Regions from separate parts of the Homo sapiens genome. Here region 2 is linked to region 1. Evidence: fine-mapped expression QTL. A gene starts in region 1. The other region holds a variant in brackets. All regions are shown on one strand. Distances are from middle to middle.

Evidence for each region. PIP is the estimated chance that this variant, and not a neighbour inherited with it, causes the effect. A credible set is the group of variants that fine-mapping cannot tell apart.
Region 2: its variant is the best candidate, but not a certain one, in a credible set for the expression of RASL11A in aorta (GTEx, PIP 0.88).

The regions. Positions count from the first base shown.
Region 1 is chr13:27,269,707-27,272,611 of GRCh38, forward strand. RASL11A (RAS like family 11 member A) reads left to right here and starts at 1,124. Exons shown (of 4, transcript NM_206827.2): 1 at 1,124-1,362; 2 at 1,778-1,834; 3 at 1,933-2,012. The coding sequence starts at 1,239. RefSeq lists an enhancer at 586-1,086 and silencers at 1,035-1,254, 1,295-1,524.
Region 2 is chr13:27,298,840-27,301,744 of GRCh38, forward strand. No RefSeq gene overlaps it. Among named protein-coding and RNA genes, the nearest start is that of RASL11A, 29 kb to the left of the region's middle. The variant A/G (reference allele first, on the strand shown) is at 1,225.

The DNA of each region.
Region 1 (2,905 bases):
TGCCCCCCACCCCACCCTAGACCCCACCATGCACCTAGAAGTAAATATTTGGATACTGAAGCAAATGCATGACTCAAGCACATAGGATAGTATTAATGATGGACACTTAGTGCAGGGCCAGGGCCCCCAGCCAGTGGAGTGCTCATGAGTGTTCAGGAATGAGCCAGTGCAACCCCTGCCTGCAGAGGAGGGGCTGGGCATGGATACTGAGATGCTAACCATCACTGCCCCTAAGGGGACTTCATCTATCCCTAGCAAGGTCACAGTGACTGCAGTTGCCTCCACTGATACTAATTCAGAGCTCTTGCCCCCCGCCCCCCGCCCTTTTCCCATATTAATGTTACCCCTTAGCATCTTTTCTTTTCTTTCTTTTTTTTTTTTTTTTGAGACGGAGTTTCGCTCTTGTGGTCCAGGCTGGAGTGCAGTGGTGCCATCTCGGCTCACTGCAACCTCCGCCTCCCTAGTTCAAGCGATTCTGCTGCCTCAGCCTCCCGAGTAGTTGGGATTACAGGCGCCCACCACCACGCCCCGCTAATTTTTGTATTTTTAGTAGAGACAGCGTTTCGCCATGTTGGCCAGGCTGGTCTTGAACTCCTGACCGCAGATGATCTTGCCCACCTGGGCCTCCCAAAGTGCTGGGATTACAGGCGTAAGCCACCGCGCCCAGCCCCTTAGCACCTTTTAAAAATAAAAAGGGCAGCGTTTTACAGCAATCTGTCCCATTGTTGCAGAAACATCCAACTGATTGCACTTTTTCTTCTTCTCTCGTCAACTCGTAACTCCTATCTCAAGTTCACCCACAGGTCTAGTGACTCCGGCTGGCTGCTGCGGGGCGAGGAGACTCGCAGAATGCCTGACTAGAGGCCACTCGCGCGCTCTGGACGGTGGCCGTATCTCCAGGGTCTGAGCCCCGGAGCCGCAGTCCTGCCGCAGAGCGCCTGGAGCCGCGAGCAGCTAGCAGCCCGGCGAAGCGCACAGCCTCGGCGATAGTCAGCTCCGCGGCCTCTGCTCCCGCCCCTCCCGGCCGCTCCGGGAAGGGGCGGAGACGAGGAGGAGCTGGGACGGCCGCCGCGCTCCCGGGCGCACCAAGCCCTTTAAAAGCCGCGGGCCTTGACAGTTCTGCAGGCAGCCGCCGCGGTCCCGGACCTCTAGTCCCGCACTCCCAGCTGGCGAGCCGGCTCCGGGTGCGGCGAGGCCCAGCCCTCTCGGATTGCGCGCCGGACCCCGGGACGCGCTCCATGCGGCCGCTCAGCATGTCCGGGCACTTTCTGCTCGCACCCATCCCCGAGTCCTCCTCGGACTACCTACTGCCCAAGGACATCAAACTGGCGGTGCTGGGCGCCGGCCGCGTGGGCAAGAGCGGTGAGTGCGGCGGGGACCCCCGGGCGGCTTCGCTCCCCGGCTCCGGCCGCGACCACTGGGGGCGCTGCGGAGAGAGGGCGCCTCGGCCGAAGCAGAGGGCGCGGGTGCAGGTAGAATCGGGCTGCTTTCGCGCTGGGTGGGTCCCGGTCCGTCCCGGCCTGCTTCCCTGGCGTTTCCTGGTGCATCTACTCCTGGGATCTCGGCGGGATTGGCGCCTGTTCGGGGATGGGGTGCGGGAGAGGTGTCCCGCCAGTCGTACTCGCGGCCAAGCCCGCGGCACCACGGCTTTGCGGAGCCTCTGGAAGCGAGCAGTGCCCACGGTTCTGCACCCTTCACTCCCCCCAGTTTGTCCGAGGTGCCTGGGTTTGACAGGCTTGTTCTACTCCTTCGGTTGATTTTCCTATTTCCTTTTCAGCAATGATCGTGCGCTTCCTGACCAAGAGATTCATTGGAGACTATGAACCGAATACAGGTGAGAATACTTTCACGCTCCCTGCTTTTATGCTTGCGTGTTTCTTTTTACGGATGGGAGTTTGAGAATTAAAAAGCAAACTCTACTTCATTCTCCAGGCAAGCTGTATTCACGGCTGGTCTATGTCGAGGGGGACCAGCTCTCCCTGCAGATCCAGGATACTCCCGGGGGCGTCCAGGTAAGAACCGCCAGGGGCAAACAGCTCACCCCCACCCGTGAGACCACCCCAGTGGGCACAGCACGTAGGGCGCCCATGCTGGGCGCAGGGGTCTGAGCAAGGCATCTAAACCGACCTGTGCGTTTAGAGGGAGGAATGGGCTGTCCACAGGTGGGGCCAGTGGTTGGGGTGTTAGAAACTCTCTAAGGGGGAGGCATGGTTAGAAGCAGCCTCCTCTTGTTAAGCACCTGACTTAACTTCACTTTGCAACCCTGGTGGGCCATCACTACTTAAGCAGGTCTCACCATTTCTTCCGGAGGTAGCCATGGAACCATTAACAAAGAAAAAAACGTTTAAAACAAAACAAAACAAAACAAAAAAAGAGGTAGGATTCTGATGGGAGAGACTCTTCTCCCCTGGCAAGCTCTGCTTTTTTTGAGACGGAGTTTCACTCTTGCCCAGGCTGGAGTGCAGTGGCTGGATCTCAGCTCACTGCAACTTCCGCCTCCTAGGTTCCAGCGATTCTCCTCGATTCTCCTGCTTCAGTCTCCCGAGTAGCTGGGACTACAGGCACCCGCCGGAACTCCCAGCTATTTATCTATTTATTTATTTATTAGTAGAGATGGGGTTTCACTATGTTGGCCAGGCTGGTCTCGAACTCCTGACCTCAAGTGATCCGCCCACCTCGGCCTCCCAAAGTGGTGGGATTATAGGCATGAGCCACAGCGCCCGGCCCAAGCACTGCTGAACTGCTGCTGTTAATGGCTGTTCCCTCAAGTCAGTAATTGCAATCAGATAACCCCTTGGCAGAGGGTCTAGAATGTAACTTGTTTATTAACCAGTTACTAATTGCTACTCCGTTCTCCAGAGGAAAGGTCTTGTGGAAGAACCCTAAGAAAGGAATTTCTTTCTGT
Region 2 (2,905 bases), 29 kb after region 1:
ATACAATAAGTTTTACATTATTTTCCACTTAGAGTAGGGTTGGTGGTTTGAAACAGAATGTTCCCTTCCCTCCTGAGAATTGCCACAAATTTCCTATTCCCGGCCAGAGGGACAGCCCATTTGCAGAATGAGAAGTTTGACACACGTGAAAACCAGTGAGCAATCTAGTTAATAGCTCTGCCAGCTTCCTGGTGTTCAGAAAGATCACTCACTTGGATTCGTTCCCCAGTTAAGTGTCCTTTGCACCATGGCAGCTTTCAACATTTGAGCAAAGCTTTATCAGACAGGATTGCCATCCAGGAGAGCAGGGCATGGTTTTGTCATCAAGGTAGATACCGGGCTCTGCCATTTCCACCTCAAGGACATCCTTCCAGGTCCTCACCACGAGCTTTGGGCTCTCATTCTTCCTTCCTCACCTGGGCCCTTCACAGAACTTTCTCCGTGGGGGACGACAGCCAATATGTCTGGTGTAGCTCAAACTTCAAGTTTTGTTTTTTGAAATGTGTATGTTTTCATATGGTTAGAAATTTTTAAAAATGTAAAAAGGTATAAAGTGAAAATCTTCACTTCTCTTCCTGTATTCATCCACCCAATTTGTGCTCCTCCCCATGTACCCAAAGGTAACCGCTTGTATTAGTTTCCAGCTCAAACATTGTGCTCTCCATAGACCAGTGTCTAATCCTCCCACTGGGTCCCATTGCTCCTTTCTCTGACTTCCTAAGTTTGCTGGCACCTGTGTGAGAGAGTACCCCATGTTATAATGAGCTGTTTGCCTGTATGTTAGGGGTCAGCAAACTTTTCCTGTAAAGGGTCAGATAGTAAATATTTAGGCTTAGGGGAAAAGAGGCAAAATTGAGGCAATTATATATGTCTTTAGGACAAAAGAGAATAGATTTCCACAACATTGTTACTGATGAAATTCAAAATACAAGAATAACTGAGTATAATGTTTCAGGTCTACTAATGAAAAGAATGTTATTAGTTTATGGACATTGTATCTGGGCATGGTGGCTCATATCTGTAATCCTAGCACTTTGGGAGACCAAGGCGGGAGGATTGCTTGAGACCAGGAGTTTGAGACCAGCCTGAACAATAAAGCAAGACCCCATTTCTACAAAATAAATGAACAAATAAGTAAACAAAATTAAAAAAAAAATTAGCTGGGCATGATGGCATGTGCCTGTGGTCCCAGCTACTTGGGAGGCTGAGGCAGGAGGATCCCTT[A/G]AACCCAGGAGTCTGAGGCTATAGTGAGCTATAATGGCTCCACTGTACTGCAGCCTGGGTGACAGAGCATGACCTTGTTTCCAAAAAACAAATAAAAATAAATAAAATTTATGGACATTGAAATTAGAATTCCATATAATTTTACATTACAAAAATATTCTTCTTTTGATCTTTAAAAAAATATATTTTAAAATGTAAAAATCTTTCTCAGCTTGTGGTCTATACAAAAACAAGGAGCAGCCAGATTTGGCCTGCAAACCGTACTGACTCCTGCCCTCTAGGATGTTATCATCTTCTTGAAAGCAAGGCCTCTGGCTTATCTTAGTGTTCCCTGTGACACCTTGCAAAATCTCAATACATATTCATTCACCACAAGGGTCTTGTCCAGCAAGTAATGACAGCTTTCCCGCAGATATTAAACTGAGAACTCCACATTTGCTATCTTAAGGTTCACAGCAGCCTGACGAGGCACTATCATTATCCTCTATTACTGATGAAGCAATGCAGGATTAAGGAGCGAGTTTGTCCTCCTCTGCCATGAAGCTATTATGCAGTAGAGTTATGAAGCTGTTTAGTTTGCCAGCCCAGCCACACGCAGTGGCTCACGCCTGTAATCCCAGTACTTTGGGAGGCTGAGGCGGGCGGATCACTTGAGGTCAGGAGTTGGAGACCAGCCTGGCCAACATGCTGAAACCCCCATCTCTACTAAAAATACTAAAATTAGCTGGGCATGGTGGCATGTGCCTGTAATCCCAGTTACACGGGACGCTGAGGCAGGAGAATCACTTGAACCCAGGAGGCAGAGGTTGCATTGAGCAGAAATCGCACCACTACACTCCAGCCTGGGTGATAGAGCGAGACTCCATCTCAAACAAACAAACAAACAAACAAACAAGAACAAAAAAAGTCTGCTGGCCCCTACAACCCGCAGACCAAATAGCACCCAGACCTCTTTCAGTGGGAGCAAGAGCAGAGACCCAGACTTGAGAGCACTTTCTCAGCGCTCCAGACTCACGGCCTGGAGACAGCTGGTCTCTAGAAAGAAGGAGTTGTCTGAGTACAAGCAGAAAAGGCAAGCCTCAACAGTCACCAGCAGCTTCTGGAAGCTCAGGACTAGGCATTGATCCTAGAACCAGTTTCTTACACCCCACATTTCAACAGGGGCAAGAGGAACCCAATAGCTTTATTTTAATTAAAAACATTGTTTTTTTTAAGAGACAGGGTTTCACTCTGTCACCTAGGCTGGAGTGTACTGGCAAGATCACAGCTCACTGTAACCTGGAACTTCTGGGCTCAAGTAATCCTCTTGCCTCAGCCTCCTAAGTAGCTGGGACTACAGACATGAGTCATGGCACCTAGCTAATAAAAAAAATTTTTTTTTGTAGACGGCCGGGTGCAGTGGCTCACTCCTGTAATCCCAACACTTTGGGAGGCTGAGGTGGGTGGATCACCTGAGGCTAGGAGTTCGAGACCAGCCTGGCCAACATGGCAAAACCTTGTTTCTACTAAAAATATAAAAATTAGCTGGGTGTGGTGGCACTCACCTGTAATCCCAGCTACTCGGGAGGCTGAGGCAGGAGAACTGCTTGAACCCAGGAGGCAGAGGTTGCAGTGAGCCAAGATCGCGCCACTGCATTCCAGCCTGGGTGACAGAGTGAGACTCTGTCTCAAAAAAAAAAAT